Linked DNA regions of Homo sapiens. Changing the gene in region 1 together with any one later gene gives a genetic interaction. Each region holds a gene or a part of one and is shown on either strand. Other genes may lie near its edges.

Evidence for each region. A genetic interaction does not mean that the proteins touch.
Region 2: of PMAIP1 (region 1) and CUL5, a change in one rescues a mutant of the other (synthetic rescue), as found in Homo sapiens cells (one study listed by BioGRID).

Annotation. Positions count from the first base shown.
Region 1 is NC_000018.10:59,895,278-59,903,012, forward strand, and holds the start of PMAIP1 (phorbol-12-myristate-13-acetate-induced protein 1), read left to right. Parts: upstream 1-4,718; 5' UTR 4,719-4,900; coding exon 4,901-4,958; coding exon of another isoform or gene 4,959-5,088; intron 5,089-5,150; coding exon of another isoform or gene 5,151-5,305; exon of another isoform or gene 5,306-7,369; coding exon 7,370-7,476; coding exon of another isoform or gene 7,477-7,571; 3' UTR 7,572-7,735. UniProt on the Homo sapiens protein: Promotes activation of caspases and apoptosis. Promotes mitochondrial membrane changes and efflux of apoptogenic proteins from the mitochondria. Contributes to p53/TP53-dependent apoptosis after radiation exposure. Promotes proteasomal degradation of MCL1.
Region 2 is NC_000011.10:108,011,873-108,018,899, forward strand, and holds part of CUL5 (cullin-5), read left to right. Parts: intron 1-7,027. UniProt on the Homo sapiens protein: Core component of multiple cullin-5-RING E3 ubiquitin-protein ligase complexes (ECS complexes, also named CRL5 complexes), which mediate the ubiquitination and subsequent proteasomal degradation of target proteins.

The DNA of each region.
Region 1 (7,735 bases):
CGATAATATCCAAACTCCTCCAGTGGCTTTTCTCCCCATCACTTCTCACCACTCCTGACCTCACACTGCTGTCAGTCTCTGCCGAGAATGTCCTTCTTCCCTTTGGTTGGTGTGATTGCTTGGCCGACTTCTATTCGAGCCTCAGGTCCCTATGTTGATGCCCTTTCCTACTGATTGCTCTCCCAGGCAGCCCTGTAATCTGCTCTAATTTCCCTGGCTCAGGACTGACACACATCTTATTGCACCTGCTGGGTTACTCTCTATATCACCCTCTGGCCTTGCTACTCAAAGTTGTCCACAGAGCAGAAGCATCAACATCGTGACAGTTCACGAAAGATGCAGAATCTCAGGTCCAAGCAGAGCTCCAGAATCAGATGCACATTTTAAGAAGATACTCAAGTGATTCTTATGCACATGAAATTTCTGAGTTACTGGTCTCTCCACCAAAGATTGCATAGGGGCAGGGAGCATTGCCTTCCCTTGGCCTAGCTCAATGTCTGTCTTTTTTTTTTGTTTTTTTTTGAGACGGAGTCTCGCTCTGTCGCCCAGGCTGGAGTGCAGTGGCGCGATCTCAGGTCACTGCAAGCTCCGCCTCCCGGGTTCACGCCATTCTCCTGCCTCAGCCTCCTGAGTAGCTGGGACTACAGGCACCCGCCACCATGCCCGGATAATTTTTTGTATTTTTAGTAGAGACGGGGTTTCACCGTGTTAGCCAGGATGGTCTCGATCTCCTGACCTCATGATCTGCCCGCCTTGGCCTCTGAAAGTGCTGGGATTACAGACGTGAGCCACCGCGCCCGGCCTGTTTTTTTTTTTTTTTTTTTTTTGAGATGAGTTTTGCTCTTGTTGCCTAGGCTGGAGTGCAATGGTGTAATCTCGGCTCACTGCAACCTCCACCTCCCGTGTTCAAACAGTTCTCCTGCCTCAGCCTCCTGAGTAGCTGGGATAACAGGCATGTGCCACCACGCCCAGCTAATTTTGTATTTTTAGTAGAGATGGGTTTTCACCATGTTGGTCAGGCTGGTCTCGAACTCCTGACCTCAGGTGATCCACCCACCTCGGCCTCCCAAAGTGCTGGGATTACAAGCGTGAGCCACACTGTGCCTGGCCTCAGTGTCTGTCTTAAAGAGAGATTTTTTTTTTTTTTTTGAGACAGAGTCTCACTCTGTTGCCCAGGCTGGAGTGCAGTGGCGCCATCTCGGCTCACTGCAACCTCCGCCTGGGTTCAAGCGATTCTCCTGTCTCAGTCCAGCCTCCTGAGTAGCTGGGATTACAGGATTACAGGCATGCACCACCACGCCCGGCTAATTTTTGTATTTTTAGTAGAGATGGGGTTTTGCCACATTGGCCAGGCTGGCAGACTCCTGACCTCAAGTGATCTGCCTGCCTCGGCTTCCCAAAGCGCTGGGATTACAGGCGTGAGAGATATAATCCATCAAATACTCTGGCTAATTTCCTGTTAACAAACATGCTATACAGGAAAACAACAACAACAAACACTTTTATTAGAACAAACACAATCGATCTACAGCCTGTATATTTTATCCCAGGCTGACTCTACATATGCCTCATTTATATCTCATGTCCTCTTGTTTAACTGTCAAATCCTATTTTCTGCAAGAAATATATGAATGACTATTCTATTACTAATCATGCTTATTTTGTTTTGTCATTGTGGTTCATATATATATATAGATACGTATACATTTTTCTTTTTTTAAACACTGACATCGAAATGATCAGATGTGCACTGTCATTTTTGAACTTGTTTCACGAGAAAGGATTATCTAATAGTTTTTTAAAATGTCATTTTCACCAGTCCTACTTAAAAAAAAATAGTAGGGAATTCTAACGCTTCATGATACATTTTTATTAATTATTTCGTTTGGTCAAATATCTCCATGTTTATATTTGTTGCAAGCCCAACATTAAATGATACCTCCCTTTTCCAGAGGATATACAGTTAAAAGAAGCTATTCACTCTGCTTCTAGCTTTTTTTTTTTTTTTTGAGACAGGGTTCTCCCTTTGTCGCTCAAGCTAGAGTGGAGTGGCTCGATCATAGCTCACTGCAACCTCCTCCTCCTTGGCTCAAGCAATCCTCCCACCTCAGCCTCCTGAGTAGCTGACACTACAGCTTATACTTGTATTATCTGCAGAGACAGGGTTTCACCATGTTACCCAGGTTGGTCATCAACTCCTGGACTCAAGCGATCCCCCAGCCTCCACCTCCCACAGTGCTGAGATTACAGGCGTGAGCCACTATGCCTGGCCAATTCTCTTTAGAGAATGTTAGATCTGCCAAAGAGTTTATGGACCATCTCAAATCCTAAATCTTTAAAAGTCCTCTATAAACCAGCTGAATCTGACCCATGTCCAAAACCCACCTCGCCCGACTTCTTTCCGCTCTTTTCCTCCTTGCAAGCTGAATTTGCAATTCCCTAAAAAACAGAGTTGCCTAAGGTTTGTAGCCAGTGTGAGTCACATGACCAATTCTTTTCTAATGAAAATGTTAGAGGATGGGATTAACATACCTTTTATAGGTAAACAATGTTGTGATTCACTTTTTTTTTTTTTTTTTGGTGGTTGTTGAGTATATTCTCTGCATTTCAGGGTGCGTATTTGAACGACAGAAATTTAATAATTTATGCAACCAAAAAGTTAACGGTGTTCCTTATGTATTAGGTAAGTCAAAATGAGCCTGGAGTGGTTTTGAATTACCACTTGGGGATAATAGATTTCAAGGCAGCATCTCCAGTGTGCTTCCTGCGTCTTGTGATGATTCCTAAATTCTGTCCACTTTTACTCGTTTGTATATACCCCATTCAAAAACAGCCAACATCAGCCTCGAAACTATGTTGTTTAAACTCAAGAGCAGTTTTGTTCCATGCTTATATTGTTGTCCATACCTTCAGCAGGACCAAGCCATAAATAAATACTTGCTGGTTTGTGTTGACTGAATGATTTAAGATAAATAAACAACCTCAAATGCCTACTGAGGCCAGATAATGTAAATGGGAAAAGCAAACAGCGGGGAGTGTGGTGAACAGGAGCACCCTAGGTTCCTCTAAAGGGTGTGGCTTCGACCACACTTCAAACCTAGTTTGCACTTTTGGAAAATGGATCCCACGTTGTCAGAGATTCTGGTTTTCCAAGAGATGCTGGAATCTGGGTTTTTCATGCAATCCCTCAATGTTTAAAATGTTGGTAATCAATTCAAATTTTTACAATACATTTTGAAGGCCAATACTGTAAACCAAACTAAGCACTTCTAGGGAGCCCATGCAACGAATTTGCAATCTTTTCATTAAACAGCACAGCTAATATGAAAACACGCTTTTTTTTTCTTTTTCTTTTTTGAGACAGAGTCTTATTCCGTCACCCAGGCTGGAATGCAGTGGCGCGATCTCGGCTCACTGCAACCTCCGCCTCCCAGGTTCAAGCGATTCTCGTGCCTCAGCCGCCCAAGCAACTGGGACGACAGGCGTGCACCACCAAGGCCGGCTAATCTTTTGTATTTCAGTAGAGACGGGGTTTCACCATATTGGCAAGGCTGGTCTCGAACTCCTGGCCTCAAACGAACCACCCGCCTCGGCCTCCCAAAGAGCTGGGATTACAGGCGTGAGCCACCGCGTTCGGCGAAAACACACATTTTCTAAGAAACTGATTGCTGGGAAGGCTACAGTGGGTAAGAGCTCTTGCTCTCTGTGGGCCTGCCTGGTTCGGAATCAGGGCAGTGCTCTCTGCCTAAGTGAACTTGGGCAATTTTCTACAAACCTCAGTTTCTGCACCCGTAAAGTAGCAACGGTTGTTCTGAGGACGGAATGAGAAAATGCATGTCAAAGTCCTTAGCATGAAGCGGCTCTCAGTAACCGTTAACCACTCCTAATTACTCCTCTTCATAATAGTAGAATTACTCATGGCCTCGCCAAACATTATGCAAATAATTTCACGTTCCCAGGTAGCTCAGCCCTCCCACAAAAGATTTGAACGTTTTCCATATGATAACGATCCACTCGTTTTTGCTAAACATCCACAATGGGCGATATCGACCTATCTGGAAGGACACACACAAATCCCTTCCCAACTCAAACACGATGTTCTTTCTGGCTGGCACCAGGGCTTCTGTTTGCAGTGACTTCCTGGGACCCGGAGCTTTCTCACAGGGCCTCTGGCATCTCCTCTGCGGTGATTAAGGTTCTTCTCATTTCCCTTCCCTGTTACTGCCCATACTCTTCAAGTTCGAAAAGTTTCCTTTTCCAATCTCTTTTCTGGGCTTGTTTACCCAAGTCTCTAATTGCCAAGGCCTCTGGTCTCTCCCCACCCACAACGTTCCTCCTGGTTAAACCCTTCCCCTCCCGCCACTCCCAGCTCCCGCCACTCCCAGCTCCCGCCACCACTGCCGCTGACGACGTCCAGCGTTTGCAGATGGTCAAAGCCGACCCCCTTCTCCTCCCACCTCGTTTTGTAAGGAAGTAATTTCGGGGCCGAGCGCTCTGCGCCCCCCGCCGCGGGTCGGCGCCGCCGCGGGTCGGGAGCGTGTCCGGGCAGGTCGCGCTCAGCGGGGTACTTCCCCGCCCGCGTCCCGCGTCCGCTCCCATAACGCCGTCTGCGGGGCGGGGACAGGGGCGGGGACAGGGGCGGGCCGGGCGTCTAGTTTCCCTACGTCACCAGGGAAGTTCTCACTGGACAAAAGCGTGGTCTCTGGCGCGGGGATCTCAGAGTTTCCCGGGCACTCACCGTGTGTAGTTGGCATCTCCGCGCGTCCGGACACCCGATCCCAGCATCCCTGCCTGCAGGACTGTTCGTGTTCAGCTCGCGTCCTGCAGCTGTCCGAGGTGCTCCAGTTGGAGGCTGAGGTTCCCGGGCTCTGTAGCTGAGTGGGCGGCGGCACCGGCGGAGATGCCTGGGAAGAAGGCGCGCAAGAACGCTCAACCGAGCCCCGCGCGGGCTCCAGCAGGTACCGACCCGCTGGGGCCAGCGAAGACCCAGGCCGGGCGGGGTCGGGGCCGGGGTCGAGGTCTCGGCTGGGGCGGGCTCAGCTCGCCGGGGCTCAAGCACAGACTGCACGGGGGTCAAGGTCGGGCCAGGTCTGTGCCCTGGCGCGAGCCTTAGGGGCGCCTCCAGAAAGTTCTTCGGGGTTTTTCCCCAGGACCGGCGGGTACGGCGGGTACGGCGAGGGACCAAGCCGGATTTGCGATTGGGATGCAGCTGCGTTTCACCAGGGGCAAAAAGCTCCTTTCCTCCTCTCTTTCCTCCTCGCCACTTGCCCTTCCCCGGGGCCACGAGGAACAAGTGCAAGTGTAGGCGGCTGTCTCTAGGAGAAAGTCATTGTCGCGGCAGAAGGGGCAGGAGAGAGCCCCGGGGACCGCCTGGACTCCCAGCGCTTCCAGAGACGGCCCCACAAGGGCCCCTGTGTTCAGGAGCCTAGAAAATCTTGTAACATTTAAATAATCGATATTGTGGGAGGTGGGGATAGGAGAATAGGAGTTAGTCCGCTCCTTTTTTTCATTCATTCATTCGCACTCCCCACCCCGATACATACAGCTCCATCGTAAGTTTTCAGGCCAGCGCCCCGGCCCCATGCTTTTTCTAAATCTAAACAGAGAACCCAGTCACTGCCCAGAGCCCGAAGTCTGTGTGGGCCATACTGCTGTTGCATCAGACGATTATACGCCCCCCCCACCTTTTAAGTTACTTTCATTTTATAGAGCTCCTGGGGCGTGCGAAGGAAGTGGTGCATTGCAAATGTGACCATGCCTAAGTTGGTAACAGGCTGCTGTCTCTGGCGCTTGTGTGGGATGGAAAAAGCTTTGTCTACCTTTTGTGATGTCTTAGGATTCTGACCTTGTTTCTTTCTGAAGGATCTTACTTATGCATAGCACTTTCTGGTCCGACTTAATTCCCAAGAACAGGAAGCAGCACAAAGTCCCTCTTAAACTTGATTTGATTGATACTAATACATTTATAGGTGTGTAATGCAATTTTTAAAAAATTAAGGAAATGACCGGGAAGTATTTTCTGCCTTGTTTTCTACATTTTTGGTGAAAGGGATAACTTTTCCACTTAGAATTCAGGGCTTCCAGTGTCGGACGCTGAATGGTATTTGGTTTTTCTTTTAGAACTGTATATTAATATATCTCAATCTCTGTAGACAACATGTCTATGTAAATACTTCCCAACATATTTGATCTTGTAGCCCATAAAGAATAACACCTTAAGGGATTTATTAGGTCTCTTGGTGTAGGAGTTAGGAAAGATTTCACTCACTTCTTGTAGAGAGAAATTGGTTGAAATATAGGTTTAAGATTTTGCTTTACTATATATTGACAGCTTTGATTTATTTTGAGCCTAAATACGGTATTTTCAGGGTCGATTTATAAAATAGACCAGATTTTAATTTGTAATCATGATTTTTTAATGTTTGTAATCATGAAGTGTACCCGAAAGACCTCAAGCTGCTCTTTGAAATATTCAAGAAAATTGAAATTATAGTCAGTATAGATACGATATTATAGTCAGTATAGTGTTAACTGCACTTACTGAAAAAAAGTGTACTTGGAAATTATAAGCATCATTTTTCTTAATATTCAGTTAGAATAACTCAATTCCAAAAAGTAGTAAACATGTGAATTAAACATTGCTTATTTTCTGCTCCTCTCATTTCCATAAAGGCAATGGATTGGTACATAATGGGGTTATAGGAAGAAGTGGGTTTACATTAAAATAGAAATGTTTAAATTATTTTAGAGAATGTGGACTTAATTTTAGAATAAGATTTTATGAGTCTTTTATGAAAAAATATCAGCGTTTTTTAACGAGAAAAAGAATACCTCTAGATTTGCCTATATAATGAGAGTATAACCTAAGCTGTAAATTATTGCCATTTGAAAATCAAATCCTACTTGAAAGCCACACAGAACTTGACTTCTGTTTCCCAGCCAACCTTAAATGAAGAGAAAAAGATGACATCATCTAAGGCTGGTGACTTATGCTACTCTTTGTAGCATTGCTTTTAAAATAAACAAAGTGGTTTTACAATGTTCTCACATCCCAAAGAATGATAATGCTACTCTTTGTGGTATTTGACATATTTGAAAGTAAGGTAACACTTGCCTCATCCAGGATGCGTTTTTTAAAAACTCAAAGTAAATGTCTTTATTCTTACCTTAACGATTGCTTTCGGTGAGTCACAATGTGTGTAAGTGTGTGTGTGTGTCACATTTGGAAAACAGGTGCACATAAAGCCAAAGTTAAGAGAAATGCTTCCTGGGATACTCAATTTGTCACTAGTGTGGGCGTATTAGGTTTTGCTGGTTACAGTCTGTAATATCATCAATGTTCATGTCCATGTTTTGCTTTCCTTCTCAGAGCTGGAAGTCGAGTGTGCTACTCAACTCAGGAGATTTGGAGACAAACTGAACTTCCGGCAGAAACTTCTGAATCTGATATCCAAACTCTTCTGCTCAGGAACCTGACTGCATCAAAAACTTGCATGAGGGGACTCCTTCAAAAGAGTTTTCTCAGGAGGTGCACGTTTCATCAATTTGAAGAAAGACTGCATTGTAATTGAGAGGAATGTGAAGGTGCATTCATGGGTGCCCTTGGAAACGGAAGATGGAATACATCAAAGTGAATTTCTGTTCAAGTTTTCCCAGATTATCATTCTTTGGGATGAGAGAACATTATAAAACCACTTTGTTTATTTTAAAGCAAGAATGGAAGACCCTTGAAAAT
Region 2 (7,027 bases), on another chromosome or scaffold:
TCCTCGACCTCTCAAAGTGCTGGGATTATAGGCGTGAGCCACCATGTCTAGCTGCTTTTCTTTTTTAATATTGGAATTTGACTCTAATAATTTTATTGTCTGTTTAAAGCAAGTGGACTATTGCTGGATCTTAGAAGTCTTTCAGCTATGTAAAGATTTGTGTAGCACATTTTGACATATACAGTTAACTGCTTAGGGGTTTTGTATCTCTGAAAACCTTTCCATGTAACTACTTTATCTTTGTTGTTTTTCCTTACAGAGTGAGTCTGTAGAACATTTGTAGGGATCTGATATTATAATTTTATCTTCTGTTTTAGATTACTTTGAACATGTAATTGTGATTGTTCCTTTTCTTTTGCAATTATCATCTGGGCCCTTAGTGCTCATTTTTTTCATTTCCAGTTTATTGTTCCACCCCAAACAGCAATTGTTTAAACCTTTTCTTGCTGAGCCTCACCCCTCTTAATTCTTAGTACATTACTTTACCCAGCTATTTGAAGTGCCCTTAACTTCCTTGGTCGATACCAAACATTTTTCTTGTTTCTCCTATGTTCTTCTCTGTTCCATGCTACCTCCCAAATTGTCTCATTCTGCTTGTTCTTTTTCAGTCCTCATCTTCCCCCCAGGACTTGGTGGTATGTCCCCTCTTACTTTTTTTTTTTTTTTTTCAGTTTCCCTTTTTTCTCCTATGCCTATAAGAAAGTTCATATGTCGCGTCATATAAACTTTTCTTTTTTTTGGAGATGGAGTTTCGCTCTTGTTGCCCAGGCTGGAGTGCAGTGGTGTGGATCTCCACTCACTGCAACCTCCGCCTCCCAGGTTCAAGCAATTCTCCTGCCTCAACCTCCTGAGTAGCTGGGATTACAGGCACACGCCACCACACCCAGCTTATTTTTGTATTTTTAGTAGAGACGGGATTTTACCATATTGGCCAGGATGGTCTCAAACTCCTGACCTCAAGCGATCCGCCTACCTCGGCCACCCAAAGTGTTGGGATTACAGGCGTGAGCCACTGCACTCTGCCTCCTCATACAAACTTGTACTCTGCCTCTGCCTCAAACTTCTGTTTCTCACTGTCACAGTTCTTGGAAAAGCAGCCCCCATTTGCTGCCTTTATAATTCTTTGCCCTTTAACTTAATGATATGGCTTACTCTTCTCTCCCACCCAATTGTATAGAACCTGTCAGTCATAAAAGTATTAGCAACCTCCTGATTATCAAATGAGATTCTTCTCTGATAATATTTATCCTCTTTTCTGGTATTATTGCTCATTTCCTCTGCTTCTCTTTTGGTTTTTATGACATTCCCTCCTTGGTCTTCTCTCTCTCAAATCACGTTTGTTTTTCACTGACTTCCCTCCCCTGTCCCCAATAGAATTATTTCTCAGGATTTTATCTTCAGCCCTTTTCTATCTTTGTATATTTTTTTCTGGGACAGTCTTAACTCCCATGATTTCACTATTTTTATCTCTTAGCTCTGATCTGAGCTCTAGATCAAAATGCAGTTCTCACCATATCACTTTCCTGTTCAGATACCTTTGATGATTCAAATTATTTGAGATCTTTCCAGCTGGGTCTTCTCCTGATAACTAGTATTCTCTCTCTCTGTCTCTTGTCTCTCTCTCTCATACATGTGTGCGTACACACTCCTACTTAGCTGGTTACTTGTTGGCTCACTAGCATGCCAGAGGTCGTCATCTCCCTAATAACTAACTCTTAACTTTCATTCTCTCTCCTTCTGATTGGATCTAGTGAGATGGAGGCACAAGAAGGCAGTAGTATATAACCGAACCACAAGATAAATCAAACTTTAAACTGAAATATGATTCATACTACTTTTCTCAGTGGACTTTTTTTTATCCTTTAAGAGGAAAGAAAATGGAAATGTAAAGCAGTGATTCAGAGTGTCTATAGAGGCCGGGCATGGTGGCTCATGCCTGTAATCCCAGCACTTTGGGAGGATGAGGTGAGAGGATTACCTGAGGCCGACCTGGGCAATGTAGCAAGACCCTGTCTCTATAAAACAACAACAATAAAAAGTGCCTGTAAAAGTTATTCATTATTAAAATAACTTTATTGACATCCATATGCAAGGTACCATGGAGAATGCAAAGATATGTAGAACAATGTCCATGCTCTTTGGGAATTTACCATATGCTAAAGGAGAGTAAAAGGTACTAATGATTTATGATAAGGCAAAAGTTTCAGATGTGTTACCAACTGCTCTATGCTCCCTCACAGATTGAGGAAATAATTTCTGGTGGGATGATCAGTGAAAATTTTATGGAGAAAGTGTTGGAGCTGGATTTTGAATAAAGTGTTGGAGCTGGATTTTGAATAATGGGTAAGCTTTTTGTATTGGTAATTAGGAGAAAATTTGGTAGGAATCTAGGCTAGATCAGTGTGGCTGCAGTGTAAGCAGGGCTGCATGCTGTGTTAGATATTCTATATGAATAGTGTTCCTTGGGATTGTTGCAGCATAGAAACCCAGAATACAGGGAAACAACAAGAGGGATAGGAGTGAAAGGGAAGTCGGGTCAGATTACAAAGGGCCTTCAGTGCTAGGCAAGGGGTTTGAAATAAAGTTCTATAGTTACTGAGGAATATTTGAAAAATATGTGGGCAGAGATACTCTCAAGCCCTCAATCTATTTTTGGCTTTTACACATAAATAAAAGTTATTATATTTTCTGTATATTTATAATCTGCTTGTGAGATTGGCCATGGATGAGGGGCATTTGTGCCAGTGACATCTTGTTCATTGAAACCGTAACCATAGCAGGAGTAATTAAGTCTATGGGAAATACATTTATTCATTGAACGAGAATTTAGTATTTCCTAATTCTAACTAGATAATGATGAACTAGGCAGACAGCTCCTGCCCTTGTATAATTTACATTTTTGTTGGGAAGAGAGACAATAAACATAAACAGTGAAATACATACTGTAAGTCAAGTTGTGATAGGTACTATGAATAAAAACAACCAGGGTAAAAGAGAGAGTGCTCGGTGCTCTTATTATTATTATTATTTTTATTTTTATTTTTGAGACGGGGTCTCACTCTCTTGCCCAGGCTGGAGTGCAGTGGCACGATCTTGGCTCACTGCAACCTCCACCTCCTGGGTTCAAGCAATTCTCCTTCCTCAGCCTCCCGAGTAGTTGGGATTACCGGTGACCACCACCATGCTCGGCTGATTTTTGCATTTTTAGTAGAGATGGGGTTTCACCATGTTGGCCAGGCTAGTGTTGAACTCCTGACCTTAAGTGATCCTCCCACCTCAGCCTCCCAAAGTGCTGGGATTACAGGCATGAGCCATCACAGCTGGCTTATTTTTGATAAGATAGTGAGGGAATGCCTCTGAGGAGATAATAGTTGAGGTAAAACCAGAATGAAGCAAGGGAGCAAGTCATGTACATATTTAGAAGAGTTCCTTGTAGAGGGAACAGCCAGTGTGAAAGCACAGAGTCAGGATCATGCTTGGCAAGGAATATGGATGTGATACGAAGATTTGAATATCATCGGTGAATGTGGTTAAGGTGCATAACCAGAGAATTCTTTTTAATATGTCTAGTTAAACATAAATGAGAACCTTATTAAGAACTTGTCAATTTTTCATTGGGTTGATAGAAATTGCCCTCTTGAAACGTATATCTAAGAGGGACATGGGCCTTAGAGCGGCCTTCCCCTCCTTCAGTGTACTGTCCTAGAGAGATGGTTGCATTCGACACAGCCTAGGGAGGAAACAAATTTCAAGGGTGTCTGTGTTGGTCATGGGTAGGAATGGGAGAGGGAATAGTGGACTAATCAGTAACTGTAAAACTTTGTGATACATGTAAATGGTAGAATCTTTCATGTTCTATGAAAATAAATGATTGAACAATTACCATAATCTGGAGGTGATGTATGTTAATTAAAACTTCTAAAAGGAAGTGGCAGCTCAGGGTAAATTTTGATCAGTCATTTTTCAGTAGATTAGAGGAGGGGAATTTTAGACTGCTGGAAGGTAGAAAGAGGATACTAGGCATCTTTCTAGTAAAAAGAGAGGTTTTGTTTTTGTTTTTGTTTGTTTTGAGAGGAGGTCTCACTCTCACACAAGCTGCAGTGCAGTGGCATGATCATGGCTCACTGCAGTCTTGATCTCCCAGGATCAAGCGATCCTCCCACTTTAGCCTCCTGAGTGGCTGAGACTACAGGCACATACCACCCTAGGTCTGGCTAATTTTTTATAGAGATGGGATCTCACCATATTGCCCAGACTGGTCTCCACTCCTGAGCTCCAGTGATCTTCCTGCGTAGGCCTCCCAAAGTGCTGGGATTACAGGAATGAGCAAAAGAGCTAGTCAGCCAGAGAGGTTTTTCTTTTCTCTTCTCTTCTCTTCTCGTCTTCTCTTCTCTTCTCTTTTCTTTTCTGTTGAGACAGGGTCTCACTCTGTCCCCCAGTCTGGAGTACAGTGGCGCAGTCACAGCTCCCTACAGCCTTGACCTCCTCAGGCTCAGGTAATCCTCCCACCTCATCCTCCCACAGGTGCAACACCAGCATTCCCAGCTCATTTAAAAAAATGTTTAGAGACAGGGTTTTGCCATGTTGTCCAGGCTAGTCTGGAATTCCTGGGCTCAAGCAATCTGCCCTGTCCTTCCAAAGTGCTGGGATTACTGGCGTGAGCTACCACCCCTACTTGAGGTTTCTCTTAATAAATATTTTGCTTAGTGTCCTGGTGAACCCAGTTGTCAGTAAGAGCCATTTGCCTCCTGCCTTGGTTAGTAGGTGGAGGAAATAGATGCCTCATATGCTCTGTAAGGAAAGCAGGGCTGGGTGCAGTAACTCACACCTGTAATCCCAGTGATTTGGGAGGCCAAGGTGAGAGTATTGCTTGAGGCCAGGAGTTTGATACCAGCCTGGGCAACCCCATTTGTACAAAAACAAACAAAAAAAAACAAACAAAAAGCAGGATACAGCTCAGGTTAAAACTTTGGTCAGAGGCTGGATGCAGTGGCTCATGCCCAACACTTTGGAAAGCAGAGGCAGGAGGATCATTTGAGGCCAGGAGTTGGAGACTAGATTGGGCAGCATAGCAAGACCTACCACCTCTACAAAAATAAAAATTAGAAAACATTGGTCAAATCCATGGAGTACATACAAATAATATCAAAGGTAATTGATCTGTGTAGCTGTGGTTTGTTCATTCCATAAAAATCTGAGCATTTATGCTGTACTGGATACCATTTTAAATTTCAGGCTGGGCACAGTGGCTCACACCTGTAATCCAAGCACTTTGGGAGATTGAGGTGGGTGGATTACCTGAGCCCAGGAATTTTAGCCCACCCTGAACAGCATGGTGAAACTCGTCTCTACAAAAAATAAAAAATAAATACCTGGGGGTGGTGGTGTACGGTTTTAGTTCTAGCTACTCAGGAAGCTGAGTTGGGAGGCTTGCTTGAGCCCAGGAGGTTGAGGCTGCAGTGAATTGAGATCGCACCACTGCACTCCAGACTGGGCGACAAAGCAAGACCCTGTCTCAAAAAAAAAAAAAAAAAAAAAGTATCAGTGATACAATAGTGAATATGACAAAGTTCTTAGACTTTGGGGCTTATATCCTGATGGATGAATACTGACACTAAAGACATAAAGAATACACTTGCATAGTTTTTACTGGTAATTAGGGCGGTAGCGAAAACAACGTGATAAGAATGTTCAAGGCCGGATGCGGAGGCTCACGCCTGTAATTGCAGCACTTTGAGAAGCCCAGGTGGGAAGATCGCTTGAGCCCAGGAGTTCAAGACCAGTCTGGGCAACATAGTAAGACCTCATCTCTACAAAAAATTTAATAATTATCCAGGCATGTTAGTGCATGCCTGTAATCTCAGCTACATGGGAGGCTGAGGCAGGAGGATTGCTTGAGCACAGATCAAGGCTGCAGTGAGCAATGTTTATGCTGCTGCACTCTAGCCTGGACGACAGAGTGAGACCCTGTCTCAAAAAAAAAAAGTGTTCGGAAGGTGGAGCCACTATTTTACTCACTTATTTACAACAGAAAATAATTTTTCCCCAAAAAACTGCTTTTGACTATTTTTTGTTGAATGTTCTTTTTCTTCCTCATGTTGACATTTCAGCCAGATCCTATAGCTTTCCTGGGCTTTTCTTAAAAGTCTGGTTATTCCAAATTAAAATTTCAGTCTCATAGCCAATCAGAGTGTCTCTTGTACCATCTCAAGACTTTGTCTCTGGATGTGCAGAGAGGAATGGAGGAAGGGCATTTTTCTTAGGTTGGTTTGGGAGGCCTGAGGTGGCATTGGAGCTGAGACCTGAATGATCTGCATTCTAAGGCAAAGGTCTTGAGGTGCAGTGATGAGCTTGGCCTGTTTGAGGAACACCTTTAAAAGGTTGCTGTGGCTGGAACATAGAATTGCAGTAGTAAGAATTACTGGTATTCAAATATATACAATCAGCCCTCAGTATTCATGAGTTCCATGTCTGTGGATTCAACCAACCAAAGATTAAAAATACTCAGAAAAGGCTGGGGGTGATGGCGCATGCCTATAATCCCAGCACTTTGGGAGGCTGAGGCAGGCGGATCATGTGAGGTCAGGAGTTCAAGACCATCCTGGCCAACATGGTGAAACCCCATCTCTACTAAAAAAAAAAAAATACAAAAATTAGCTGAGTGTGGTGGCACATGCCAGTAGTCCCAGCTACGCAGGAGGCTGAGGCAGGAGAATCACTTGAACCCACGAGGCAGAGGTTGCAGGGAGCCGAGATCACGCCATTGCACTCCAGCCTGGGTGACGGAGTGAGACTGTGTCTTAAAAAAAAAAGAGAGAGAGAAACATCACATATATGCACTTAATGTGGCACCCGCACACATTTATTTTTATTAAGCCACCTCACTTTTGTTGAGATAAGAAAGATTTTATGAATCCCCTATAGATGCAAGTAGTGTACTTGCAATGTAACAATGGTTATGAGCTCAGCCTCTGCAGCCACACTGCTTGGGTTGGCCTCCAGGTTCTGCCATTTGCTAGCTGTGTGG